Regions from separate parts of the Homo sapiens genome. Here all the other regions are linked to region 1. Evidence: fine-mapped expression QTL. A gene starts in region 1. Each other region holds a variant in brackets. All regions are shown on one strand. Distances are between the middles of the regions. Region 1 holds the start of RHOXF1 (Rhox homeobox family member 1). Region 2 has its middle 4.5 kb from the start of SNORA69. Region 3 has its middle 30 kb from the start of ZBTB33. Region 4 overlaps RHOXF1-AS1 (RHOXF1 antisense RNA 1). Region 5 overlaps AKAP14 (A-kinase anchoring protein 14). Region 6 has its middle 3.0 kb from the start of NKAP. Region 7 overlaps TMEM255A (transmembrane protein 255A).

What was found.
Region 2: its variant is fine-mapped to the expression of RHOXF1 in transverse colon (GTEx, PIP 0.98).
Region 3: its variant is fine-mapped to the expression of RHOXF1 in whole blood (TOPMed, PIP above 0.99).
Region 4: its variant is fine-mapped to the expression of RHOXF1 in whole blood (TOPMed, PIP above 0.99).
Region 5: its variant is fine-mapped to the expression of RHOXF1 in sun-exposed skin (GTEx, PIP above 0.99).
Region 6: its variant is fine-mapped to the expression of RHOXF1 in whole blood (TOPMed, PIP above 0.99). The same link has a PIP of 0.9 or more in adrenal gland, amygdala, anterior cingulate cortex, atrial appendage, caudate and cerebellar hemisphere.
Region 7: its variant is fine-mapped to the expression of RHOXF1 in gastroesophageal junction (GTEx, PIP above 0.99). The same link has a PIP of 0.9 or more in esophagus mucosa, esophagus muscle, ileum, prostate and thyroid.

The regions. Positions count from the first base shown.
Region 1 is chrX:120,113,416-120,117,481 of GRCh38, forward strand. RHOXF1 (Rhox homeobox family member 1) reads right to left here and starts at 2,498. Exons shown (of 3, transcript NM_139282.3): 1 at 2,050-2,498. The coding sequence starts at 2,447. All of the region lies in intron 1 of RHOXF1-AS1 (RHOXF1 antisense RNA 1), which reads left to right.
Region 2 is chrX:119,780,911-119,784,976 of GRCh38, forward strand. No RefSeq gene overlaps it. Among named protein-coding and RNA genes, the nearest start is that of SNORA69, 4.5 kb to the right of the region's middle. The variant C/T (reference allele first, on the strand shown) is at 1,972.
Region 3 is chrX:120,219,236-120,223,301 of GRCh38, forward strand. No RefSeq gene overlaps it. Among named protein-coding and RNA genes, the nearest start is that of ZBTB33, 30 kb to the right of the region's middle. The variant T/TA (reference allele first, on the strand shown) is at 2,412.
Region 4 is chrX:120,085,280-120,089,345 of GRCh38, forward strand. The region is part of intron 1 of RHOXF1-AS1 (RHOXF1 antisense RNA 1); the gene reads left to right. Among named protein-coding and RNA genes, the nearest start is that of RHOXF2B, 9.6 kb to the left of the region's middle. The variant T/C (reference allele first, on the strand shown) is at 1,598.
Region 5 is chrX:119,906,960-119,911,025 of GRCh38, forward strand. The region is part of intron 4 of AKAP14 (A-kinase anchoring protein 14); the gene reads left to right. Among named protein-coding and RNA genes, the nearest start is that of AKAP14, 13 kb to the left of the region's middle. The variant G/A (reference allele first, on the strand shown) is at 2,256.
Region 6 is chrX:119,944,700-119,948,765 of GRCh38, forward strand. No RefSeq gene overlaps it. Among named protein-coding and RNA genes, the nearest start is that of NKAP, 3.0 kb to the left of the region's middle. The variant A/G (reference allele first, on the strand shown) is at 1,847.
Region 7 is chrX:120,262,128-120,266,193 of GRCh38, forward strand. The region is part of intron 8 of TMEM255A (transmembrane protein 255A); the gene reads right to left. Among named protein-coding and RNA genes, the nearest start is that of ZBTB33, 13 kb to the left of the region's middle. The variant A/AG (reference allele first, on the strand shown) is at 2,323.

The DNA of each region.
Region 1 (4,066 bases):
CGCACCCGGCCAAGATGAATAATTTAATGCATTATTATTATTTTTATTATTATTATTTGAGACAGGGTCTCACTGTCGTCTATGTTGGAGTGCAGTGGCAGGATCACTGCTCACTGCAGCCTGCATGTCCTGGGCTCGAACGATCCTCCTGCCTCAGCCTTCCAAGTGGCTGGGAGTACAGGCACACACCACCACACCCACATGGCTAATTTTTTAAGTTTTATTTAGAGACGGGGTTTTGCCATGTTGCCCAGGCTGTTCTTGAACTCCTGGACTCAAGCAACCTTCCCACCTTGGCCTCCCAAAAGCGCTGGAATTACAGGCCTGAGCCACCGTGCCTGGCCCTAATGCACTATTTTAATAAATAACAATTAATGCAAAAATCTGTGATGAGGACCAGGCACTGTGGCTCAGGCCTGTAATCCCAGCAGTTTGGGAGGCCGAGGCAGGCAAATTGCTTGAGCCCAGGAGTTTGAGACTAGCCTGGGCAACACGGCGAAACCTTATCTCTACACACAAAAAAAATACAAAAATTAGCCAGGTGTGGTGGCCTGTGCCTGCAGTCCCAGCTACTCAGGGGGCTGACACGGGAGGATGGCTTGAACCCAGGAAGCAAATGTTGCAGAGAGCTGAAATCGCACTGCTGCACTCCAACCTGGGCCACAGAGAGAGACTCTGTCTCAAGACAAAACAAAAAAACCAGAAAAACAAAAAACCAACCAAACAAACAAAAAAAAACTATGATGAACAAATTATCAAAATTTTAAATAAAGGAAGGATCTAGCACTGTAGTTGCATGACAGTACCTCATTCTCCTTACCCCAATTTCAATAAAATTTTATTTATAAAAACAGACCACAGCTGGGTGTGGTGGCTCACTCCTATAATCCCAGCAACTCAGGAGGCTGAGATGGGAGGATTGCTTGGGTGACAGATCCCCCACTCAACAAAAACAACAACAACAACAAAAACAGGCCATCATCACAGGTAATAAAAGAAAAAATACATAACTTGGACTATATCAAAATTTAAAACTTCTGTATATCAAAAGATGCAATGAACAGAGTAAAAAGACAACTCATAGAATGGAAGGAAATATTTGCAAATCACATCTGATAAGGGGTTAATATCCAGAGTGTATAAAGAACTCCTACAACCCAATAACCAAAAAAAAAGAAAGAAAGAAAGAAAAAGCCACTCAGATTTTAAAATGGGTAAAGGACTTAAAGAGATATTTCTCCAAAGAAGATATACAAGTGGCCACTAAGCACATGAAAGGATGCACAACATCACTAATCATTAGGGAAAAGCAAATCGAAACTACAATGAAGTATCACCTCACACCCATTAGGATGGCTATGTAAAAAACCCCAGAAAATAACAAGTGTTGGTGAGGATGTGGAGAAACTGGAACCCCCATGTACTGTTGGTGTGCACCTGTATCTATAAAATGGAATATTATTTAGCCTTAAAAAGGAAGGAAATTCTAATATATGCTGCGATATGGATGAACCTTGAAGACCTTATGCTAAGTGAAATAAGTCAGTGACAAAAATGCAAATACTGTATGATTCTACTTACATGAGATACCTAGAGTAGTCAAAATCATAGAGACATAAAATAGTAGAATGGTGGTTGCCAAGGGCTGGGGAAAGGGGGAAAAGGGGAGTTGCTTAACTGGTATAGAGACTTAGCTTGGCAAGATGAGAAGAATTCTAGAGATCTATTGCACAACAATGTGAACATACTTAACACAACTGAACTCTATACTTAAAAAGTGGTTTGGACGGTAAATTTCATATTTCCGTGTATTTTACCACATCTTTATAAAAGGGAGGCACGGACTAGTTTCCAGGTTTCATTCACATAAACATTGCAATAAAACATTTACCTTGATGCCCAGGAGGTAAATATCCCCCTCCACACCAGCACAAAGGCAGGCAAGGACCCCCAGTGGCTTTTTCCTCATGATTGGGTGGGGCAAGGGAGAGAAAAAGATGCCTCGAAACGAACTTGGAGATCTCGTGGCTCCTGGAGCAGGCCACTTACCTTGTGGGCACATCAGGGTATTGAGTGTGTCGGAAAACACTTTCCAGCTCCTCCACCTGCAACAGCGTGAACTTCGTGCGCCGAGTTCGTGGCTGCATGTTCTCGGGCTGCGGACCCTCCATGGCCGCCTGGGCCGGCTCCTCCGGCGGGGGCTGCGGCTGCTGCCGAGGCTCCTGGTTTCCACCGCCGCCCTCGGGGATCATGCCGCCATCGCGGTTCATGCCGTTCTCGTGGTTCACACCGCCCTCAGGGTTCATATTACCCATGAGGCCTGGAGCTCCTTGGCCAACATGGCCTTCTGCGCTTGATGCTGCCCCCAGCTGAGGTGTGGGGCTTATTTTTACCTGGTATACACTCAGGCAGTAGAACACGGTGTCGTGGACGAGCGAACGCGCCATGGCTGGAGCGCTGCGCCCCTGCACAAACTCCGTGGCGTCTGCAGCTGGAGTGGGGGTTAGAGGGTGGAGCTAGTTCCTGTTCTCATGCTTGGTATTGGTTACAGTTGCAATGAGTGGGACTTGCTTATGCGCACAAGCAAGAGAGGGAATGGAGAGGAGTGGGGGGATGGGAAGTTGGGGGGTGCGGGTGGGGAGTGGGGGTGTTGCAGGTGGGAGTGGGGGGTTGTGAGTGTGGGGTGGGGTGCAGGTGGGGATGGGGGTGTGGGTGGAGGGTGGGGGGTGCACAGTGAGGGTGGGGGTTGCGGGTGAGGGTAGGGGTTGTGGGTTGGGGTGGGGGTTGCCGGTGGGGGTACATGGTGGGGGTGGGGGTAGCGGGTGGAGATGGGAGGTGTGGGTGGAGGGTGCGTGGTGGGGGTAGGGGTTGTGGGTGGGGGTGAGGGGTGTGGTATGGGTCGTGGGTGGGGGTGGCAGTTGAGGGTGGAGTGGGGTGGCCAAAACACAGGGGCAGTGTGGAGAAGAAAAGGGCCAATAGGAGGCATATATGTATGCAACATGGGGCCCCAGCTTGCAGCTTTGCTGACTACACCCTACTCGGGCCTAGTTATTACCCTGAGGAAAGCTGATTTGGGGGCTCAGAGGGGAGGTGAGATCTCACGGTGACCATAGGACGCCTTGAGTAAAAGTTTGGAGAATATCTCATGGCCTGACCCTCCATATTTGGCAGCATGCACAGGGCGCGGGCTATTAATTAAGCAGAAATGATTGACTGGGGGCTGCTTGTTCAGAGTTCCAGCAAAGGCACTGAAAGCAGAGCTGCCATGCTCTCTTCAGTGCTGGGATCGGGATCTTGGAGATGGGCATGCAGAGCATTCTGGGTGGTAAGATGTGCTCTGCAAGAAATCTAACGCACCCTTTGAGAAAGTCAACACAGAATAAACACGAGGCTGAATCTGTTAGCCTGAGACTGAATATCTTTGGCTATGCAAGAGAAACCTGTACTCATGGCAAAATGGAGTGCTATAAGGACAAGCAAAAAATAAATAAATAAATAAAATCGGGGATGGTATAGGAAGAGCACCAGTAAGGGCATACCTGCCAAAAATCTCCAATCTTGGGATGGAGATTTGGGATTTAAGGATATGCAGCTTACTGGATGTGGGGCCACTTCTGCTCCACAGAGCCTTGTAACTACACAGCCTTCCTACCACTGACCCCAATAAGCCCAATTACGAAGAAAAACCCTGAAGAGCCTGGTGCAGTGGCTCCTGCACTAGTCCCAGCTACTCAGGAGGCTGAGATGGGAGGATCACTTGAACCCAGGAGTTTGAGGCTGTGGTGAGCTAGAATCACATGGCAGCACTCCAGCCTGGGCAACAGACAGAGGCCCCTTTTCTTTAAAATAAATAATAAAATAAGAAATAAAATGAAAATGAAAGAAAGGAAAGCGCTAAGAGAGTCTGTCATGAGGAAGGGCATGGAGATGTCTTTTGAGGGTGGACAACTCATGAATCCTTAATTTTTCTAGAGATTGTGTGTGTGCTCTTAAGTGATGTTATATACTTTATTTTGTTTTTTAAAAATATTTTTAAAAATTTTATTTTTAAATGTTCTTTTAAAAA
Region 2 (4,066 bases), 330 kb before region 1:
TACAGACATGAGCCACTGCGCCCAGCCAACAAATGCATTTATTGTACCTCCTTCATGCCAGATGCAGTTTGTTGAAAGCAAAGTGTAGCGAGCAAGACATACCCTTCTGGATCTATCCTTGTGGAGCTCACAGTCTAGCAAAGGAGGCAGACATCAATTAATTGACCACACATGTAACCTTATAGTTACAATTGTGAAGGAAAACTACAGGGTAATTTAAGAGGTAGTAAGCAGAAGAACCTAACTGGACTGGAAGAAGAGAGGGGGAAGTCAGGGAAGGTCTCCCTGTGGAAGTGACAAGCAGGTTGAGACCTGAAGAATGAATGGATGTTAACCAAATGAAGAGGGAGAACATTCCAGGACAAGGGAATGGGAGGTGGTACTTTCTGTTTTGTTTTGTTTTTGAGACAGGGTCTCACTCTGTCATCCAGGCTGGAGTGCAGTGGTGCAAGCTGGGCTCACTGCAACCTCTACCTCGCGGGTTCAAGCGATCCTCCCCACCTCAGCCCCCCAAGTAGCTGGGACCACAGGTGTGCACCATCACGCCCAGCTAAGTTTATGTATTTGAGGTAGAGACGGGGTTTCACCATGTTGCCCAGGCTGGTCTCGAACTTTTGAGCTCAAGCAATCCACCCGCCTCGGCCACCCAAAGTGCTGGGATTACAGGCATGAGCCACTGCGTCCAGCTTACCTTTTTCTTACCTGTAAAATGGAAGAATATCTAGTGGAATTGATCCTTTTCTCTTTTTAAAAACTTTTTACGGCCAGGCATGGTGGCTCACGCCTGTAATTCCAGCACTTTGGGAGGCCGAGGCTGGTGGATCACCTGAGGTCAGGAGTTCGAGACCAGCCTGGCCAACATGGTGAAACCCTGTCTCTACTAAAAATACAATTAGCTGGGCATGGTAGTGCAGGTCTGTAATCCCAGCTACTTGGGAGGCTGAGGCAGGAGAATCGCTTGAATCTGCGAGGTGGAGGTTGCAGTAAGCCGAGATTGCGCCATTGAACTCCAAGAGCAAAACTCTGTCTCAAAAAAAAATCCAAAAAACAAAAAACAAAAAAAAACAAACAAGGCTCTGCACAGTGGCTCACGCCTGTAATCACAGCACTTTGGGAGGCTGAGACAGGCAGATCGCGAGGTCAGGAGTCCAAGACCATCCTGGCCAACATGGTGAAACCCCGTCTCTACTAAAATACAAAAAAATTAGCCAGGCGTGGTGGTGCGTGCCTGTAGTCTCAGCTACTCGGGAGGCTGAGGCAGAGGAATCACTCGAACTCGGGAGGCGGAGATTGCAGTGAGCCGACATTGCGCCACTGCACTCCAGCCTGGCGACAGAGCGAGACTCCTTCCCAAAAAAAAAACAAACCTTTTTACCTGGGAGCATAGACTGAAGTTACCTTGAAAATACACTCCTGGAACTAATCCTTTACAGACATCATTCAATCCTTACAAACCTGAGGTAGTCAGGTATGACTGGATATAAAAGTCTTCTAAGAGAGCAAGGTCCCACAGTTGGTTCAGTGATGAAGCTGGGATTCAACCTTAGGCTTGCCTGCAAGACCTTGAGGGGTTACTCTGTCCCTCCAAATTAAAACCCTGGAGTTGGAAGAGAACTGGCATCAATTTAGCAGCTTATGTTGAGCACCAACTCCATGGCAGCTCAGCCTGATTTTATCTCAGCCTCCCATCACAACGTCCCTCTCCCTGTGCCAACATATGGTGCATCTGTGCTGGGGACTGACACCAAAACGTTCTTCCTGCTCACTCCCTACTCCTCATCTCCTTTTCCTAGTCAGGCAACTGAACCAAGTGCTTTGGTGCATTATTAAATTTCATCCTCACAACCTTCTGAGGGAGACCCCATTTTGCAGATGAGGACGCTGAGGGCTTACAACTGGTGAGTGGTGGAGAGCAGGGTTTTGTTTTGTTTAGTTTTGAGATGGGGTCTTACTCTGTGGCCCAGGCTGGAG[C/T]GCAATGGCACGATCTCGGCTCACTGCAGCCTCCATCTCTCAGGATCATGCGATTCTCCTGCCTCAGTGTCCCGAGTAGCTGGGACCACAGGCATGTGCCACCACGCCCGGCTAATTTTTGTATTTTTAGTAGAGACAGGGTTTCACCATGTTGGTCAGGTTGGTCTCGAACTCCTGACCTCAAATGATCCACCTGCCTCGGCCTCCCAAACTGCTGGGATTACAGGCATGAGCCACCATGCCCGGCCCGGGAGCAGTGTTTAATGAATCCAGACTATAGTCTGGTGATACACAGACAGCAGCAAACTCAACCAATCTGCTGCCTGCCTCTCAGTAGGTCAAGGGATGGGCAGTGTCATCACAAGGGTGACTTCCTGTCTTTCAAAACCTGTCATCTAATGCTTCCCTTCTTTACTATTTCAGTACCATTTTGAAATCTTAAAATACATCGCAAGTTCCCCTTCCTTCCTTCAAGATGCACTGATCTAACCCAACTCCCTTCATAGATATGGGGAAACAGGTACTGGCAATTGTACAAGATAGCGAGGGGCCACTGGATCCAGACCCCACAGCTTTCAACTCCCAGGCTCCAAATAAACCCCTCACACACGGCTAACCCCATGTCCATGTCATTTTCCCTTTCTCCAAATCCTAATCCTACCTTCCGAGTAGTTGGGATTACAGGTGCAATACTTGGGTGCCTGTAATCCCAACTATTCGAGGTCTGTAGAGAAAGCTGCCTATGCCATTAGATCTTGGCCTTGTCACTTAACCTCCTTGGGCTCTGTTAGCAAACACCCAACCTACTCTGAAGCAGAAGACTGCTTTCTAATGCTCTGAAATGGTTAGAAATGTCCCTGTCTTGTGACTGCCAGTTAATTTTATCAAGTCCCTCTCCTTTGGACTTGAGTATCGTTTTTTGAGACAGGGTCTCACTCTTGTCACCCAGGCTGGAGTGCAGTGGCATGATCACAGCTCACTGTAGCCTCGATCTTCCAGGCTCAGGTGATCCTCCCACTTCAGCCTCCCAGATAGCTAGGACTACAGGTGCACTCCACCCTGGCCAATTTCTTGTTTTGCCATATTGTGCAGGCTGGTTTCAAACACCTGGGCTCAAGCGATCCACCTGCCTAGGCCCCTCAAAGTGCTGGGATTACAGGCGAGCCACTGCGCTCAGCCTTGAGTAACATTTTTAAGTATGTTAATATTTACCAACTGCTGTTCACAGTGGCAACTTTCTTTGAATATGAAGGCATCACTGATGCAATAAGAAAAAATATTTGCAGTCAGGCCGGGGACAGTGGCTCACACTTGTAATCCCAGCACTTTGGGAGGCCAAGGCAGGCGGATTACCTGAGGTCAGGAGTTCGAGACCAGCCTGACCAGCATGGCGAAACCCCATCTCTACTAAAAAAAAATACAAAAATGAGCCGGGCATGGTGGTAGGCACCTGTAATCCCAACTACTGGGAGGCTGAAGCAGGAGGATTGCTTGAACCCGGGAGGCAGAGGTTGCAGTGAGCCCAGATCACGCCACTGCACTCCAGCCTGGGTGACAGAGCAAGACTCCGTCTCAAAAAAAAAAAAAAAAAGAAAGAAAGAAAAGAAAAAGAAAAAAGAAAAAAAATTGCAGTCTAGGGGTTCAGGAGATAGGTTCCAAAGATCCCTTTAAAGCTCCTAATTTCCTTGGTATTCTGGAGCTCACTCTTCACATTTCTGGTGAGCGCCATGCTCTTAGGAATTGCTTTTTTTTTTTTTTTGAGACAAGTCTTGCCGTTGCCCAGGCTAGAGTGCAGTGGGGTGATCTCAGCTCACTGCAACCTCTGCCTCCCGGGTCTGAGCAATTCTCCTGCCTCAGCCTCCTGAGTAGCTGGGACTGCAGGTGCGCGCCACCACGCCCGGCTAATTTTTGTACTTTTAGTAGAGACGAGGCTTCACCACGTGGGCGAGGCTGGTCTTGAACTCCTGACCTCAGGTGATCCATCTGCCTCGGCCTCCCAAAGTGCTGGGATCACAGGTGTGAGCCACTGTGCCCAGCCGGAATTGCTTTCATCTGAACCTCCTAGTGTGGTTGTAAGGCAGGGACCCCTTTGCTG
Region 3 (4,066 bases), 110 kb after region 1:
TTGTATACATGTATCAAAATATATGTACCCCCAGAAATATATGTACAACCATTATATATTAATTAAAAACTTGAGTTATTCAATACTTTTCCCTCTAATCAGACTCCTAACTTTAGCTTCCACCTCTTTTTCTACCCCCTAAAGCTTGTGTTTCCTTCCCAAAACATGAATTGGCTTATGTAAATTCTTTGTTCAAAATATCTCCTGGTTCCCAGTGGCATATAGAATACATATCTGCCAGTTTTGTACAGCATAGCCACATTTTGATTTCTTCCCTTTCAACTGTATGTCCTACTATACTCCAATGTCCCTTTCATCACACACACAGTCTGTGGATCTCCCTCAGCACTCCCCCATCTTCTGGATATATCTGGATGCTCCTGGCCCAGGGGCTTGGCTCAGACCTTTTCTGTTTGAGTTATGTACTATATTGAATGCCTAACCATACTCCCTATCCAGTTTCAGTTTTCACTCCTAGCTGATGACTTGGATAAGAGTCTCTTGAGTTAGAAATAGTTTTTATCAATAACATGGGAGTAACAATGCATATAATAGCAATAGCTCACATGAATCAAGCTCTTAATTACTGTGCCAGGCACTGTTAATGACAAAAATGATAAATGTCCTCCAGGATAAAGGGACCTAAGAGACAGTTTGATCAAATGTCCTTACACCCTCAAAGAGGGTTTCCTGATATAACAGGTCCAGCCTCTGTCTACTTGCCCTTTTCTATTCCAACTTGTCAGGAGAAGAGGGGCCATACCCTGTTAAGTCCAGTGAGTAGAATCACTTCATTCATCAAGGCGGGACGTGGCTTGTTTATGCATGAGGTAGTTATTCCACTCTGGTTTAATTTCTTTTAAAATGGGGATGATGACAATTGTGGTTGTTGTACAGATAAAAACTCATGTACAGTGTCAAGCATAGGACCCATGGTTAAGAGCTATTAATATTCAGAATATTAACACATCACAGGGTACCTGTAAAACACTTCTTAAAGAACTACAGTGCCTTCAACCTAGCCTGGCTCTTATTTATTTGACACTTCAGTGGGGAACAAGAATTCAATTTTGGCCAGGTGTGGTGGCTCACGCCTGTAATCCTAGCACTTTGGGAGGCCGAGGCAGGTGGATCACTTGAGGTCAAGATTCAAGACCAGCCTGGCCAACAAGGCAAAACCACGTCTCTACTAAAAATATAAAAATTAGCTGGGCATGGTGGTGCACATCTGTAGTCCCAGCTATTCAGGAGGCTTAGGCACAAGAATTGCTCTAGCCCAGGAAGTGAAGGCTGCAGTGAGCTGAGATCGTGCCACTGCACTCCAGCCAAGGTGACAGAATGAGACCCTGTCTCAAAAAAAAAAAAAAAAGAATTCATTTCAGGAAGATAGTTCTGAGAGGCGAAAGAAGAGGAGAAGCAGGGAGGAGTGGGAGGATGAGGTAGCAGCAGTACCCACAGTGATGCAGGAGCTCCTGGATGGGAACCTGGAGGGCAGTGGTGTTTTTATTGCCTCTTCCATGATTAGAAAATAAGTTTTGAACTTTGGGGGCTTTAAGGAGTGGAAATGAGAAAAGTAAATACAGAGGCTGTTAGCCCTTCTTAAGGGAGAATACTACTGTCTTCTGTGTATCTTCATGTTGGGACTCAGTCTGAGCTGGAAGTATTCAAATTAATGCACTGAGGAGCTGGATTATACAAAAATTAGCTGGGCATGGTGGCATGCACCTGTAATCCCAGCTACTTGGGAGGCTAAGGCAGGAGAATTGCTTGAACATGGGAGTCAGAGGTTATAGTGAGCTGAGATCACGCCACTGCACTCCAGCATGGGCGACAGAGCAAGACTCCGTCTCTAAATAAATAAATAAATAGGGCCAGGAGCGGTGGCTCATGCCTGTAATCCCAGCACTTTGGGAGGCCGAGCAGGCGGATCACGAGGTCAGGAGATAGAGACCATCCTGGCTAACACGGTGAAACCCTGTCTCTACTAAAAATACAAAATAATTAGCTGGGCGTGGTGACAAGCACCTATAGTCCCAGCTACTCGGGAGTTCTGAGGCAGGAGAATGGCGTGAACCTGGGAGGCAGAGCTTGCAGTGAGCGGAGATCGCGACACTGCACTCCAGCCTGGGCGACAGAGCAAGACTCCCTCTCAAAAATAAATAAATAAATAAATAGGGTTCAATTGTACTTAACTATTTGAAGTATTTAAAACCAAGCATAACCTCTGAGCTAAAATGAGTGATTTTGTAAATATTTAGGCAGTGGTGTGAGGAAGTAATTCACCCCCAAAACACACTAATGTACATTTAGTTATAATGAGACTGAAGCAGGGAGATGAAGGCCAAGTCCTTCTGCTGTTGTTCTTAAGCCTTTGGTAAAGCAACATAGGGAGTGGCATCTTTAGATTTGTC[T/TA]AAAAAAAACAAAGAACAGTTACAAATAAAATTCCATGCACATGTATCCCAGAACTTAAAGTAATATATATATATGGCAAAAAACCACAAAAACAAATAAAATTCCAGACAGAAAGACGATGCAAATATTAGAGAATTATACACAAAGTATGCCTTGCAGCTGCCACACAAACTCAACATTATGAAACTATCAAATGCACAAATGAACACTCTCTTGAGGAATTTCTAATATCAAAGGAATTGTTTTCTTCCCTTTTGGTGGTACAATTATGAAGAGGTGGGTTTTGCAGAATTTGTTTAGTGGTGGTAGGGTGGCTGTCAATTCAGGGTTGATTCAAACCTCTGTTAATTTGAAATACTCTTCCATTTTCTCCAGTAGTGAAGACTTATTTGTAGGTCATGAGATCAAAAGGTGACTACCTGAGACCGTGGAAAACCTAAAGTTGTGTCAAAGAACTATTGCCAGGGAAAAAACATCAAGATGAGTTTATTGTTAGTTTTGCTGCAGAGAGAGAGAGAGAGAGTGTGTGTGTGCATGCAGTAATGGAAACATGTGCAGATCTGATGGTGGGTTGTCCAAAACAAGCAGCCCCTGAGTGCTGTCATCCTAACACCATAGGTAGGGCTCACAGTCAGTCTTGGCTGACTCCCACAGTCAGGTTGGGAGGATGAAAGAAACCTCCACTATCTCAGGAGGCATGGAAAGCTCAGAGGAAACGAAAGACAAGGTTTGATGAGCTGCTTTTCTGGTTTTCATAGTGGTCTCTTAATAGAATTCTGAAAAGGAAAAGGAGCCACAAGAAAAAAGAGAAAGAAAATGTTCTCATCTATTTCCAAATTCTAAGGCATGACCTTCCCCCAAGAAACTCTTGGTAGATGTTTTCTCCCTTTCTCTTATTTGCAAATATAATAGAACTGTTTTATGTAATCAGTACTGGGAATAGGGAACTAATATTGGCCCATAAAACAGCCTACTTTGGGGATCGGCTATTTAGGGAGATTTGATAATAGATTTGAACATGCCCAAAATGAGCTCTATTACACTAGCCTTCTTTAGACTATATTCATGCAGAGAAAGGATCCTAAATCCTAAAATAGGAGAGTGAAAGTGAGGAGTCAGACAGGGAGAAAAGGCCTGTAGTGTCACAATTTGCAGATTGGGAACTTCCAAAAGGATTAAATACAATGTTAACTCCATTAACTAGGATGCTGAGTAGACGTAAAGCCCACCTGACATGGTTGTTTTGTTCTGTTTTTTAGTAGCTGCCAGGCATTTAAGAAAAAGCCTTTTCTGTGACCCCCCACACCCACATTGATGTTGACCTTGCATTAAAATGACTAGTTCTGTTATGGGATCTTTGGAGTGTCAATTTTCTGGCCAGAAACCTCTGTGGCTGGTGACATCTTTGCCCTAGTTCTTGTCCTGTGTCCAGGAAGAATGAGGTATGCGACAAGTGAAGAGTGAACAAGACAAAGAGGCGCCTGAGTTCTTGTCCTGCATCCAGGAAGAATGAGGTATGCGAACAAGTGAAGGGTGGACAAGGAGGAAGAGGAGCTTTATTAAGTGTTAGAACAGCTCAGAGGAGAACCACAGTGAGTAGCTCCTCTCTGTAAGCAGGTAATCCCATCTCTCCATCCTCTGCCCTGCTCTGGCT
Region 4 (4,066 bases), 28 kb before region 1:
AACTGCCATTCCTTGACATTCATCCACATACAAAAAAAGGGCTTTTTTACATTTGGCAACCCTAGTGCCGGGGCCTGGATGAGAGCTTCCTTTATATCCTTGAAGGCCTTTTCCTGTTTCTTTTGCCATAGGAGGGGCTCTCTTTCCTTTCCTTTTATAGCCTCATACAAGGGCCTTGCTGTAAGGGAGAAGTTTGGAATACAGATTCGGCAGAATCCTGCCACGCCTAGAAATTCCCTGGCCTTGTAACTGGGGTGGGCAGTGCACATACAGCCTCCTTGCGTGCACTTAAGCCTGCGCTGGCCTTGGGATACCATGAATCCTAGATATCCAACCTCCTGAAAACAGACTTTTGCCTTGTCCTTGGACACTTTATAACCAGCTTCACACAGCACGTGAAGAAGCCTCTCTGTTCCTTGGAGTCATTCCTCCCTCGTGGGGGCGGCAAATAGGAAATCATCAATGTGTTGTAATAGCACATAATTGTCACTAGGTGGCGCAAAAGCCTCAAGATCTGTAGCCAAGGCCTCCTCAAAAATGGTAGCATTCTTAAACCCTTACGGCAGCCTTGTCCAGGTATATTGCGATTGCCCCCTCTGACTTTGGGGAGCAAGCTTCAAACAAAAGAAGGCATCCTTTAAGTCCAGACATGTGAACCAAGTGGCATCAGCAGGAATCTGTCCCAACATTGTGTATGGGTTGGGTACTGTTGCATGGATAGCGACAGTGGCCTTGTTTACCACCCGGAGATCCTGCACTGGCCTGTATTCCCCATTTGATTTGTGCATGGGTAACAGAGGAGTATTCCATGAGGACTTGCATTTTACTATAATCCCATGTGTATAAAGCCGATTCAGATGCTTTTGTTATTCCATCAATTGCCTCCCTGGGTACTGGGTATTGACGGACTCATACCGGGGCAGCATGAGGGTTAAGCTCTGCTACCACTGGGGGTCTGTTTGCAGCAAGTCCAGGGTATTATCCTCGGCCCATACACCTGGTACCTTGAAAAGCATCCCCCATATATTGTGTAGGTCGGTTCTGGTGACCTTCTGGCACACGGTTCACACAGCCACCATTCCTCAGCCCTTGGGACAGTTGGAGTTCATACCATTGCCTTGGACTTTCCAAACTCCAGTGTCATATTCCCTTTAGGCGTAAAGAAAATTTCTGCCTGCAGTTTCTGGAGTAAGTCTCTCCCCAGCAAGGGCACTGGACAATTTGGCATATACGGAAACTCATGCTGCACTTCTTGTCCCCCAATAACACATCTCCTGGATTTGCAAAAAGGTCTCTTTTTTTTGGCCCCAGTAGCCCCTACAATAGTAGCACAGTTCTTTGTGGGGAGGCTAATTGGGTGAGTTACCACAGAGAAATCAGTACCAGTATCGACCAAAAAAATCCATTAATTGACCCCCTATTTCCATAGAGACCATAGGCTCCCCGGGGCCTAAAAAGATGGAGCCTGGTCTGTCTCAGTCCTCAAAATTCTTGGCCCCTGCTAAGCCAATCAGATCAGGATCTGCCCTTGATGCACCATGACTAGCAACCGAATAACGCACTTGGGTGTTAGACCATTGACCATCATTTCCATCCT[T/C]TTCCTTTTTGGGTCACTCATCTTTCCAGTGGCCCATTTTCCTGCACTTTGCACATTGGTTCCTGTCCAACCAAGATTGGCTTTCCTCTCCTGGTCTTGTCTGCCCCCTTCCTCGACCTCTGCCTTGGCCACGCCCTCTAGCAAATTCAGGGTTACTTTCTGCTAGTGCAGCAGCTATAAATTGAGCCATCTCTGTTCCTATATCTGGTTTTTCTTTCTTCCTTTGGTTGGGCTGCCTGAGCCACTAATGCCTTATAATATCTCTTTAGACAGGGCTGTAGACACTTGGGGTGAGTTTGTGCTACACTGAGCCAAGAGTCTATATAGGGAAACTGGTCTGGGTATCCTGGTTGTCTTCCAACTCCGGTGACCACGTTAAACACACGGCCAATTAATTTTCTGTCTATTGTACCTTCAGAGGGCCACCCCACATTGAAAGCAGGCCAATCTATTTCACAGTATGTCCTTAACTTTTGAGCATCCAGTTTCATCCCATAATCACCTCTAAATCCTTTTTTAAAATTCTTTATCACGCACTCCAAAGGAGTTGGCTTCGACACTTTTCCTCCCATTTCCTCCCTTGCAGTGCACTTTCCCTCTCACTTTCACTCTCAGATCCACCAGACCAGGTCCTTTTATGGGAGTTTCAGACACTGCTTAGCCAGGAATGTGCCTTCCCCTGTCACAGCCTGCTGTGGCTGTGAAACTGGTCCCATTGGCCGTATGCGGCATCCTAGGTCTGATTTCTTCCACGCTCACCTTGGAGTACACAGCCTGCCCTAAGGGATCTGTGCCTCCTCACGTTACTCCCCGCATTGGCCTCTCCCAAGACCATCTCTTTCATACACTTTCACACACCTCCCCTGCCCAGGACTCCTCATCAGACGAAACGAGCCTCTCTCATGTCCTGGGTGGGTTCACACACACCCACACACTCCCAGTTCCTGTCTCCAGATCCAGTAAACCACTTTCACTTTGTTAATGGGGACACGAGGTTCATCCAAATTAGCAAGCCTCTCCTGCCACCCCCAGCTGCTCTGGGTTGGATTAGTGGTCATTCCCTGGGAGGTGATCATCCTTATGGGACAGGCTTCCCTGCCTTAGGCACTTGCTCCTTACTACAGTTCCTGAAGTGCTGGCATCGTCCTGCAGCCCTGTTCCTGGTTCTGTTGCATTGCCGGGCAGTCTGCTGGGATGTGGGGAGAGCCAGTCTCTGTCTGGGTGAAGCTCCCCTGTGGCGTGCCTTGGATGCTGGGTCTCCCCAGCCCTGGGGCTCTAGTCCCCCAGGCAAATGAGACAGTAAATCTGTTGTCTCCAATCCCAGGCGAGTTCCCAGAAATGTTACGAGATTTTTAAGGAATCAGAGAGACCAATGGGGCTCAGGAGGATATTTATTAATTATTTAGGTGCACTGGTCCAGTCGGATTAACATCCAAAGGACTGAGCCCTGAACAGAGTTAAGTTACCTTTTAAGCATTTCGTGGGTCGGGGGAGATCTGTGCAGAGGAAAGTATACTACAGAAGTGAGAAACAAAGGCAATTGAGACATGCATTATATCATTTTTTACTTTTCAAGGAAAAACATGTTTTGCAACTTGAGTTTTTCTGTCTAGTGACCTTGCAGCTGCACAGCTAAGGAGACAGGGTCTTCACAATGCCTGGGAAAGTGGGAGAGATAAGGCTCACTAGCCACAGAAAAACAGGCAGTTAATTTTAAAGGACTTCAGCTCTTTCTCTTTCTTAGGGGGAATTGGGTTTTCTTACATACAACTGAGTTTCTGCTTGCACACTCTTTAATTTCTTTTAATTCCTGTTCCATACATACACTGGAATATTCTTTTGGAATGTGTTCTTCCTTTTCTTTCTAAGGGATACAGGCACAGAAATTTGTGGCCTATAGCTGACTGTCCTGTTGAGAATTACTGAACTGAACTGAGCTGGTTGAGAACTTTGTTATAACTTTCACATTTTATTGTACTTTTGACAAAGGGCAAAAGAAAAGTTAAGTTCTGTGTAGAATAAACCCAAAGCTATGTTTGCATAATCTTATCAGTTGTTTTGTATGTTGGCAGATACTATCTTTACTTTCAGAAAACACAGAGAGATCAATTATTATACTTGATCTACAGAGTGCTCAGATAATATAATAAAGTAAGTATGTGATTTCTACTATGATCCCAAAGAATTATATTCACAAAGGCAGTAGATAAAAGGTAGGGAAAACAATGAGAACATCCAGTATTACTTATACAAGAAAACAATGTGATTTCCCATGTGTTTAAGAGTTTCATTGGGCCGGGCGCGGTGGCTCACGCCTGTGGTCCTAGCACTTTGGGAGGCCGAGGGGGCGGATCACGAGGTCAGGAGATTGAGACCATCCTGGCTAACACGGTGAAACCCCGTCTCTACTAATGGTACAAAAAATTAGCCGGGCGTGGTGGCAGGTGCCTGTAGTCCCAGCTACTCAGG
Region 5 (4,066 bases), 210 kb before region 1:
TGTTAAGCACTGCAGTGCACATCATCATGCATTATCTCGTTTAATCCTCACAACAAAACTGTGTGTGGGTATATCAGTGTACCCATTTAAAAGATGAGAACTTTGCACAAATTGCCCAACCTCTCTCTGATTGAGCAGCAAAACAAAGTTATGATCATATGTCTGTCTGATTTTTTTTTTTTTTTTGTGGGACAGGGCATTGCTCTGTCACCCAGGGCTGCAGTGCAGTGGCACCATCTTGGCTCACTGCAACCTCTGCCTCCTGGGTTCAAGGGATTCTCCTGCCTCAGGCTCCCGAGTAGATGGGACTACAGGTGCATGCTACCATGCCTGGCTAATTTTTGCATTTTTAGTAGAGATGGGGTTTCACCATGTTGGCCAGTCTGGTCTCAAACTCCTGACCTCAAGTGATCTGCCCACCTCAGCCTCCCAAAGTGCTGGGATTACAAGCGTGAGCCACTGTGCCTGGCCTGATACATTCTTTTTAAAAAATATTTATTTATTTATTTATTTATTGAGACAGAGTCTTGCTCTGTCGCCCAAGCTGGAGTGCAGTGGCGCAATCTCGGCTCACTGCAGCCTCAAACTCCTGGGCTCAAGTGATCCTCCTGCCTCAGCCTCCTGAGTAGCTAGGACTATGGGTACACAGCACCATGGCCGAGTAAATTTTTTATTTTTTTGTAGAGATGAGGTCTCACTTTGTTGCTCAGGCTGGTCTTGAACTCCTGGCCTCAAGTGGTCCTCCTGCCTCGGCCTCCTAAAGTGCTGGGATTACTGCCAGCCACTGGCAGTGGCCACTGCACCCGGTGTGAGCCACTGCACCCAGTCAGTTCTATCTGATATATTCTTTCCACCACAGTAGGAAAAGTATTTTTTTTTCTTATTTGTTTTTTCTCATCAGCTTCTACTGACCCAGGAAAAGTACTTTTGGATGACAAAAATAATGCAGACTTTTATTATCATTTAAAAATACAAATTCAAATGATTTTAAGGTACTACAATGTGAATACGAATAATTAAACCTGGTATCAGAAGGCTGGTACAGGCTGGGCGCGGTGGCTCACGCCTGTAATCCCAGCACTTTGGGAGGGCGAGGCGGGCGGATCACTTGAGGTCTGGAGTTTGAGAACAGCCTGGTCAACATGGTGAAACCCTGTCTCTACAAAAATACAAAAAAATTAACTGGGTGTGGTAGTGTGTGCCTGTAATCCCAGCTGCTTGGGAGGCTGAGGCAGGAGAATCACTTGAACCTGGGAGGCGGAGGTTGCAGTGAGCTGAGATCGCACCACTGCACTCCAGCCTGGGCAACAGAGTGAGACTCTGTCAAAAAAAAAAAAAAAAAAGAAGGATGGTATAGGATGGTATAGTTGTGGGGAGGGAACACTTACACATTGCCAATGGCAAAGTTGGTTCATTCTCTTCAGGAACACAGTCTGGCAACAGGAATATACAAATGGGTTCCTTATAAAAGAAAAATCAGAGAATGCCCATCACCTCAGACAGTTAAAATTACTTTTATAATAAAAAAAAGACATCACTATAAAAAATGCCCAGTGAGCAAAAAGATACAAATTAGAAAATGAAATTACCCAAAATACCCGTTTCTATTACCCCAAAGGTCACTTAACCATGGATAACAGTTTTGTGCATATACTTTTTCATTGTTTTTTGCCTTGTGCATATACTTCTATGTGTCTGTTGATTGTGAGTGTCCAGTAGTATGTAGTTGGCTAAGCCATCCATGATCAAGTAGTACAGTGAGATACTGTTTCCTGGAAGTGAGTATATGAAGCAGTATCATGTAAAAATCACAAAACACACTCACTGCTGATACATAAAAGTCTGCTGCCTGCACACGGATAAAAATGGGAGGAGATTCGCCTGATGAAAATAGTTAAATTTAATGTCATGTGTAAGGCTGCCTTCATTCACAAAAGGGAGGAAAAATCCACTAAGAGCCAAGCTGAGAAGAAGAAACTCTTAGAACTGAGGCTTCTAGTGGGGTGGAGAAAGCACTGAGCGGGCTGCTCAGGAGTCCTGGGTACCAGTCCCAGTTTATTGTGTTAGACTGTCCCTACCTACTTCTAGGCCCTGGTATCCTCATCTGCAAAGTGAAGGGCTGCATTAGATTATCTCTAGTGACCTATTCAATGTTATAAAGTCTGTGATTGTGTGACAGATTAAACATTAGGGCTAGAAAAGTATATTGAGTAATATAGAACAGTTGAAAAAAAAGGCATGCTCTGGCTGGGTGC[G/A]GTGGCTCATGCCTGTAATCCCAACACTTTGGAAGGCCGAGGCAGGTGGATCACCTGTGGCCAGGAGTTTGAGACCAGCCTGGCCAACATGGTGAAACTCCGTCTCTACTATATGTGCTGCCGAAGCGAGCACAGAAACTCCATCTCTACTAAAAATACAAAAATTAGCCAAATGTGGTGGTGCACACCTGTAATGCCAGCTACTCGGGAGGCTGAGGCAGAAGAATCACTTGAACTCGGGAGGCGGAGGTTGCAGTGAGCCGAGAAAACGCCACTGTACTCAAGCCTGGGTGACGGAGCAAGACTTCATCTCAAAAACATAAAAAAAAAAAAAAAGAGGCATGCTCCAATGAGCCATAAGGGGTTGACTGTTGGGCCCCTTCATTAAAAGGAGTAATGATTTTGGGGCCAGGCGTGGTGGCTCGTGCCTATAATCCCAGCACTTTGGGAGGCCGAGGCATGTGGATTACCTGAGGTCAGGAGTTCAAGACCAGCCTGGATCTCTACTAAAAATACAAAAATTAGCTGGGCGTGGTGGTGAGCACCTGTAATCCCAGCTACTCAGGAGGCTGAGGAAGGAGAATCGCTTGAACCCAGGAGGCGGAGGTTGCAGTGTGCCGAGATCACGTCACTGCACTCCAGCCTGGAAGACAGAGAGGGACTCCGTCTCAAAAAAAAAAAAAGGAAGGAATAATGACTTTGGGAGGCCGAGGCCAGTGGATCACTTGAGCCTAGGAGTTTGAGACCAGCCTGGGCAATATAGGGAGACTGTCATCTCTACAAAAAATATAAAAATTAGCCAGGTGTGGTGGTGCATGCCTGTATGTAGTCTCAGCTACTTGGGAGGCTGAGGCGGGAGGGTCACTTAAGCCCGGGAAGGTTGAGGCTACAATGAGCCATGATCGTGCCACTGCACTCCAGCCTAGGTGACAGAGTAAGACCCTGTCTCAGAAAAAAGGAATAATGATACATGAAAGAATACACAGCTCCTGATCTCAAGGAATCTCGAGTCCAGTGCTCTTCTCTGGACTGAAACAGCCAATTGGGTACAAGTTTGAAATAAGCTGAGGCAAAAGGCCAGCCTACATTTTTTTTAAAGGAGGGCCTGAAATCTTTTTGATGTCTCCTGTACTCCCTCTCCACATTACTGGGACTTGTTAGACTCTCCCAATTCCTTCCTTCTGTGAACCTTCATCTTAATTCAGGCTCTTCTTTGATTCAGAAGCTTCTGGTGCCCTGAGAGCCAGCCCAAGGAAGTTCAGTTGAATTGAATTTGTTGAATACCTGTGAAATCTAAGGCCCTGTGCCAGGAATCAGGGATGCATTTTGACTTCTGTGGGCCCTAGGCACTCTTCCCTTTGTATCCCCCTTTCTCCTTCAAAAGATGAAAAAATTCAAGACAGCACTGGTATAAAGATGAATATAATCATGACCCTAAAATTCATATATTCTTCTTCTTTTTTTTGAGGCAGAGTTTTGCTTTTGTTGCCCAGGCTGGTGTGCAATGGCGCAATCTCGTCTCACCACAATCTCCGCCTCCCGGGTTCAAACGATTCTCCTGCCTCAGCCTCCCAAGTAGCTGGGATTACAGGCATGCACCACCACGCTGGGCTAATTTTGTATTTTTAGTAGAGACTGGATTACTCCACGTTGGTCAGGCTGGTCTCGAACTCCCGACCTCAGGTGATCCGCCCTCCTCGGCCTCCCAAAGTGCTGGGATTACAGGCGTGAGCCACTGTGCCCGGCCTTTTTCTTCTAATTTTAAAAGAAATGAACACATTTTTTTTGTGGGCCCTAGGTATTGAGCTTAC
Region 6 (4,066 bases), 170 kb before region 1:
GGAGTGCAGTGGCTATCCTGGCTCACTGCAACCTCCGCCTCCCAGGTTCAAGTGATTCTCCTGCCTCAGCCTCCTGAGTAGCTGGGATTACAGACATGTGCCATCATGCACAGCTAATTTTTTATTATTTTTTAAATTTGTACAAATCTATGGGATACATGTGAAATTTTGTTACATGTATATAATGTGTAGTGATGACGTCAGGGTATTTAAGGTGTCCATTATCTGAGCACAATACATTTTTGTTAAGTGTACTCTCGGCCTGGTATGGTGGCTCACGTCTGTAATCCCAGCACTTTGGGAGGCAGAGGCGGGTGGATCACTTGAGGTCAGGAGTTTGAGACCAGCCTGGCCAACATGGCGAAACCCTGTCTCCACTAAAAATACAAAAATTAGCTGGGCCTGGTGGCACGTGCCTGTAATCTCAGCTACTAGGGTGGCTGAGGCACGAGAATCGCTTGAACCCGGGAGGCTGAGGTTGCAGTGAGCCGAGAGTGAGATTGCACCACTGCACTCCAGCCTGGGCAACAGAGTGAGACTGTGTTTCCAAAAAAAAATAGTGTACTCTCACTCTACCATGCTGTCAATATCAAACATTGAATTTGGGGCTGGGCATGGTGACTTACACCTGTAACTCCAGAAATTTGGGAGGCCGAGGCGGGCCAATCACTTGAGCCCAGGAGTTGGAGACCAGCCTGGGAAACATAGGGAGACCCTGTCTCTACAAAAAATTTAAAAATTTGGCGAGTGTGGTGGTGCATGCCAGCTACTCAGGAGACTGAGGTGGGAGGAACACTTACTTGAGCCCGGAAATCGAAGTTGCAGTGAGCCGTGATTGATCCACTGCACTCCATGGGCGACAGAGTGAGACACTGTCTTAAAACAACAACAAAAACCATTGAATTTATTTCTTCTATCTTACTGTATGTTTGTACCCTTTAACCTATTTCTCTTCATCCTTCTGCTTCCTCCCACATACCCTACCCAGCCTCTATTATCTATCCAGCAAAAGGAATTTGTAATCCCCTCTTTGTCCAGCTCCTTAAACTAGTCTCATTGTATGCCAGCCCAGCAATATAGAGTTAAGGATCAGTATTCCTATTCTTTTTTTTTTTTTTTTTTTTTTTTTACATGGAGTCTCGCTCTGTAAGCAGGCTGGAGTGCAGTGGCGTGATCTTGGCTCACTGCAATCTCTGCCTCTAGGGTTCAAGCTATTTTCCTGCCTCAGCCTCCTGAGTAGCTGGGATTACAGGGGCGTGCCACCATGCCCAGCTAATTTTTGTAGTTTTAGTAGAGACAGAGTTTCACCATGTTGGCCAGGATGGTCTTGATCTCTTGACCTTGTGATCCGCCCGCCTCAGCCTCTCAAAGTGCTGGGATTACAGGCGTGAGCCACCACGCCCAGCATTTCTATTCATTTTATACTGTTTTTCTTTTCTTTTTTCTTTTGTGAAACAGTGTCTGGCTCCCTCACCCAGACTGGAGTGCAGTGGTGTGATCTTGGCTCACTGCAACCTCCACCTCCTGAGTTCAAGGGATCCTCCCACCTCAGCCTCCTGAGTAGCTGGCATGTGCCATGGTTCGCTAATTTTTAAATTTTTTGTAGACATGGGGTTTTGCCATGTTGCCCAAGCTGGTCTTGAACTCATGGACTCAAGTGATCCTCACACCTCGGCATCTCAATGTGCTGTCATTACAGGCTTGAACCACTGCACCTAGGCCTCTACTGTTTTTAAATCAAAGGGCATTCCAACATTAATTCTACTGATTTCGACTTTTTTTTTTGAGACAGAGTCTTGCTCTGTTGCCCAGGCTGGAGTGCAGTGGCAGGATCTTGGCTCACTGC[A/G]ACCTCTGCCTCCTGGGTTCAAGCAGTCCTCATGCCTCAGCCTCCCAAGTAGCTGGGATTACAGGTGCCCACCACCATGCCCAGGTAATTTTTGTATTTTTGGTAGAGACTGGGTTTTACCCTGTAAGCCAGGCTGGTCTCAAACTCCTGACCTCCAATGATCTGCCGGCCTCCGCTTCCTAAAGTACTGGGATCACAGGCGTGAGCCTCCATGCACAGCCCTCAATTTGGATTTTTGAAGGTACATAGGTTTGCTGAAGAAATTCCAAGTCCAGCCTGCCAGTAGCATGATGGCCTCTGGGATTTTCCTAAGAAGTAATTTATCAGATCATGAAAATTAATGCCAATTGATTATCAGAAATCTCCTTTTTTTGGAATTTAAGGGAAAGACGTATGAAATAATGTTAAATGGAAAGAGTGGACCACACTATTGGATATCTTCTATGTATAACTAATTTGTCATGGGGCCAGGTCCAAAAACTTAATCGAGTAAGAGAAATTCTGTGATTTGGGATGGAGATTGGGGAGAATTTCTAATAAGAAAGTTTTCAATGGAAAACCTACTGCCTAACTTTTGCGACAACAGGCAGTACACCTTCACATCAGTTGCCTATAAAACCAACTCTGCAACAGTGATTGGTCTACCTGCCCCATGGCTGGTGGACATGTACTTTAGTTGGAAAGAGAAAACCCCTACTCCTGCACATCTGAATGGCATGGTGCTCTTCTTGCCAGGTATCCTGGGAGCAGCCTGTGTTTCATGAGTTGGCAGTGAGGGGGAGCTAGAGCACACAGGGAGGTGCAGACAGCCAGTGGGATCAGGCTTGCAGAGTTTGGGTCCTGCCACTGCACTCCAGCCTGGGCAACCTCTGCCTCCCAGGTTCAAGTGATTCTCCTGCCTCAGCCTCCCAAGTAGCTGGGACTTCAGGCATGCGCCACCATGCCCAGCTAATTTTTGTATTTTTAGTAGAGACAGGATTTCACTGTGTTGGCCAGGCTGGTCTTGAACTCCTGACCTCATGATCCGCCTGCCTCACCCTCCCAAAGTGCTGGGATTACAGGCATGAGCCACCGCGCCTGGCCTATTCTTCTTTAAATTTTTTTTTTTTGAGATGGGGGTCTCACTCTGTCACCCAGGCTAAAGTGCAGTGGCACTATCTTGGCTCACTGCAACCTCCGCCTCCTGGGTTCAAGCGATCTTCCCACCTCAGCCTCCCGAGTAGCGGGGACAACAGGCGCATACCACCATGCCTGGCTAAGTTTTGACATTTTTGGTAGAGACAAGGTTTCGCCATGTTGCCCAGGTGGGTCTGGAACCCCTGAGCTCAAGTGATCCGCCCACCTCGGCCTCCCAAAGTGCTGGGATCACAGGCGTGAGCCACCTCACCTGACCTGATCCATTCTCTACAGGAATTAAACCATTTGTGTGTTATGGGATATGGAGGTATTCAGCTTCCATTCACTACTCCTCTTCAAAGTCTGAGACTCTGCAGCTGTCTGGGCAGGTGCATGGCTAACACCCAGCGGACTGAGGCAGGGATCTGGGTTGTGGAAATGGAATTTAAGGAGTGGGTGTTAGGGGGACTCTTGTAGTTTGTGTCCATTTGAATTTGAGGATGCTTTCCAATTATGCCAACAATTGTTTTAGAGACTGCGAGATTAAAACAATGTTTTTAATCACTAACCTCTTTTGAAAGAATTTGCAGGATCAAAACCCGAACTACATAATTTCTAAAAAGAATTTTCTTTTAGAATACTTCTTAGTCAATACAGACCTGTGATCCCTGATAACTTAACTGGCGTGCTGGCTTTGTCAGTTCCTCTAACACCTCACTTATCTGCATTTCTTCTCTGATAATGAATTGCTACTACTTCTACAGGAAGAAATTGGATGATATTAGGCCCCTAAATATGGAAAATTTCGCACTCTTGGGTTAGCCTATTTGAATCTCACATTGGAAAGACTGTCATAAATGGAGAACTGTTTCTAATTTGACTCCACTAGGAGGAGCTGTATCTACCAACAGGTAGAAATATGGCTGGAACTTGCAGGTGTGTTCTGAGGACCAAAAGCACAGGATAAAATAAGTGATGTGACCATTCTAGGATATATTCGAGCTAAAGATCGTGTGTGCTCATGCGCACCCAAAAGATAGAGAGAGGAACATTGAATGAAGCAGAGCTCAGTGCTAGACATGGATGGAGAATTTGAGTGCTCTG
Region 7 (4,066 bases), 150 kb after region 1:
AAAAATACAAAAATTAGCTGGGAGTGGTGGTGGGTGCCCGTAATCCCGGCTACTCAGGAGGCTGAGTCACGAGAATCGCTTGAACCTGGGAGGCAGAGGTTCCAGTGAGCTCAGATCACGCCACTGCACTCCAGCTTGGGTGACAGAGTGAGACTCCGTCTCGAAAATAAATAAATAAATAAATAAAACCTATGTCCAGATTTCTAAGCCTTGCTTGAGACACAGAAAAATCTTCCTTACCACATAATGTTAAGACTGAGAAGAGATGCTAGCTGCCATCATCCCCTGCCTCCCAAATCCCATCCATTATTTCACTCCAAAGAAATGGCAGGGTCGTAGAACCTGGAGAGCCCTTAAAGGCAAAACAACCTGAGGCAGTGGACTCAAGACAATCTAGATTCCTTCTTAAAAACTCAATTTTCCTCCTCCCTCCAAGAAGATACCCTTTGTTAAAAACATCGGTATAGTGATTTCCTGATTTTCCATCTTGCACCCTTCAAACTCTCCCTTCCTCCTCCTCTCCCTCCCTCCTGTTCTGTTGCTTTCCTCAACTAAGAACTCTCTCCTCTTAACCAGAGAGGGGAACAAAGACCCACCAGGGCAAAGAATCTCTGTGCCTGGGCATATGGCACTCACTGCCTCTCTAAATCCCACTACAGAGATGACATGAGAGGCAGCAGGCCAGTTTTAGGTGTTCCCAGCCACAGAAGGGAGAGGCAAGTTTCCTGAAGTGAAGCTAAAGGCAGTTCTGTCCTGAGAGGCATTAAAAGGCTTCTGTGGGCAGCAGCTGCTGTGGGTGGCAGTTGTACACTTTGATAATAAAAGGGGGTGGTACAACGGCCCTTGGGTTTTCACTTCTTAGTTTTGTGTTTGAGAAGTATGGGGGGAGGGGGTCATGATTCTCACTTCCCTTTGAGGATGCTGGGAGTCTTAAGGATAAAGCTGAAGGGTTCCTGGCAGAGCTAGGGAGCTAACTGGCTGCAGTCCACACACCCTTGGGGTTTAGCGGGGGAAAAGGCCCATAGTACCAGTGCATAGTTTCCTAGCAACAGGCAGGCACCTTGGGAAAGATCTGGCTTTGTCGCAGCCAGGGAGTTGGCCTGGTGTATTCTGGTTCCTGCCTGAGAGTGTGACTTTAATAATGCTGTGGGCAGCTCAGGAGAACAGAACTTTGAATCCTTGTGCACCACCAAGCACGAAGAGCATCTAAATAGCCTACTGCTGGGCCTAGTCAGCTCCAGCTTCCTGAGCGGCTTCTTAGAGGCTGGGGTGGCCAACAGGCTGATGGTGCTTGAAGAGGAGCACCACCCTTTCAGGGACACAGATGGCTTTCCTCTTCCACCTTAGCCTGCCTCCTGCCTGCCTGATGGCTGACCCACACCCTTCAAGATCAATGCGCATTTCCGTCAGGGCATGCTTCTCTCCAGGAGCCTTGTGGGACAGTGACTTCACAAAGAGCCCAGGAACTGGCTGGTGATAATTACTAGTTAAAGACACTGTGTCCCAAGGGTAAAATCCCAGCATCTGTCGGTATTGTGCATTCCCTCTCTGTTCTGCCCCTGGAAGCAAAGGCTAGGGAGATGGAGAGAAGAGTGGGTAAAAGAAAGAGGAAAAAAAAAAGGATGAGTCAGGAACAAGGGAAAGGAGGGGACGAAAGGAAAGACTTGACAGCGGGGTGGCGGGCGGGTGGCGGGGGGAAGAAAAAGTTGAGTGATAGCAACAACAGCCTTCTAAGGCTCTCAGCAACCTGTGCCATAAACTGTACCCTCCTAGGATCAAAGCAATCCTTTTAATAAATGGGCCCAATTTATAATGAGTAACTTTTAGTGGCTAGGGTGAAACCTAGTGTACCCTCGTGATTAAATAAAGAGGAAAAATAGAGGCACTTTTGAATTGCATAGGTTGAGACTTTCGTTTTAAGCTTAAACTTGGCTGGTCACCAAATGGATAGGAAAGGGACCATTCCATGGTTAGAGTAAAGTAGGGGTACTGGCCCAGTATGCCAGACTGGGAAATATTGCTGGGAACCTTGAGGGGTTTATAAATAGCTGGGTTTAATTTCCCAGCAGAAGTGAAAACTGATGCTTTGTACCCTACAGATTTTGGACTACTTGGCTAAAGCTGAAGGGGTGGTGGGGAAATAGTGCAAAGGACAAGAGAAATGAGTGTTGGACAGATGAGCGAGGAGGCAAAGGTAGTCTCAGCTTATATCCTTCCTGCTTTGGAGTATGAGGAGTTCCTGAGAAGCAAGGACACCCTGGAGCCCAGTGTTTGAAAGAATCCAGTTTCTCTAAGCTCAGCACTCAAAACTTCCTCAGGGCC[A/AG]GCTGATCAGACCCAAATCCTTGCTCATGTCTGACCACAAGAAGTGTTTCCCAAGCTTCCTCACTGGACAGCTACCCAATAAGGGTATGACTTTGAGGGGTTAAAACAAAACATTATAAGTCTTTTTTCCTCATCCTCCTATTAGCCTCAGGGTCAAAAGGAAGTTGAAATCACCAAACCCAAAGTCACAGAAATAGTCCTACTTGGAAATAACCAAAATGGGAAGTCATTCAGAAGAAAGTCTAGAAAGGTCCATTTTCTGGCTGTAACTTAGGTCATTTTACAATCAGAAGAGCATGAGGGAGCTCTGGCCTTTTGGGGGTGGGTCTGTGCTTCAGGTGGTTTTATTGTCAGATCTGGAGTGCATTTGCTGACTCCTTTTTATTTATCTGGGAATATAAGCAGACGTTTCCTGCCCTCTTGACTTTCCTTTTTTTTTTTTTTTTATACAGCGCTTCTCTCTTGTTGCCCAGGCTGGAGTGCAATGGCGTGATCTCGGCTCACCACAACCTCCACCTCCTGGGTTCAAGTGATTCTCCTGCCTCAGCCTCCTGAGTAGCTGTGATTACAGGCATGCACCACCATGCCTAGCTAATTTTGTATTTTTAGTAGAGATGGGGTTTCTCCGTGTTGGTCAGGCTGGTCTCGAACTCCCGACCTCAGGTGATCGCCCGCCTTGGCCTCCCAAAATGCTGGGATTACAGGCGTGAGCCACCGCGCCTGGCTGACTTTCTTGTGTAAAGAATGGTATTTTCGCCTATGAAACTATAAGGGAATGAAACTTGGTGAGCAAAAGAAAGCTAAACTAAAATACTAAAATGAAACCATTTAAGTTCTAGAGAGAAATCACTTAAAATCTTACCCCCTCAAGACTTAGGCTATACAATTATAAAGTCTTCAAACAGGAAATACTAAAGACATCTTGAGCCTAGGGAAAGAAGTGGGAGACATATAAAAAGTGTCCAAGCAGCCCCTGAATTCCCCTCTGAGGAATGCATGAAGGAAGGGAATCCTTTTTCAGTGGGGATCAAGAGTAAAGAGACCCTTTCTGAGGACCATGAGTCCAGTAGAAAGTATAAATATCCAGTAGAAAGTATAAATATCCCAAAATTAACTGGGGAAAGAGCTGTGCTCCGCTTAGATTCACAACTTCAAAAATCCCCCAACCCAATCTCTGGAATCAGTCAGCCCTAGATATAAATCCTTACTCTTTCACTTACCACCTCTGTGACTTTGGTGAAGTCACTTAATCTCTCCATGATTCAGTCATCTTATCTTAAAAATGGCAATTGCAAGAGTACTTCTCTTAAAGAGGTAAATGATTGAATGATGATATATGTAAAGCACTTAGCACAATGCTTAGTACATAGTAAGTACTCAGTGAATAGTAGCTGTTATTAAAAAGTAAGGGTGGGCCAGGCACGGTGGCTCATGCCTGTAATCCCAGCACTTTGGGAGGCCGAGGCGGGTGAATCACGAGGTCAGGAGTTTGAGACCAGCCTGGCCAACATGGTGAAACCCTGTCTCTACAAAAGATACAAAAAAAAAAAAAAAAATAGCCGGGCATGGTGGCACGCACCTGTAATCCCAGCTACTCGGGAGGCTGAGGCAGGAGAATCGCTTGACCCCAGGAGGTGGAGGTTGCAGTGAGCCAAGATTGTGCCATTGCACTCCAGCCTGAGCGACAGGGCAAGACTCTGTCTCAAAAAAAAAAAAAAAGGAGAGGCTTCTAACAATCCCCAAA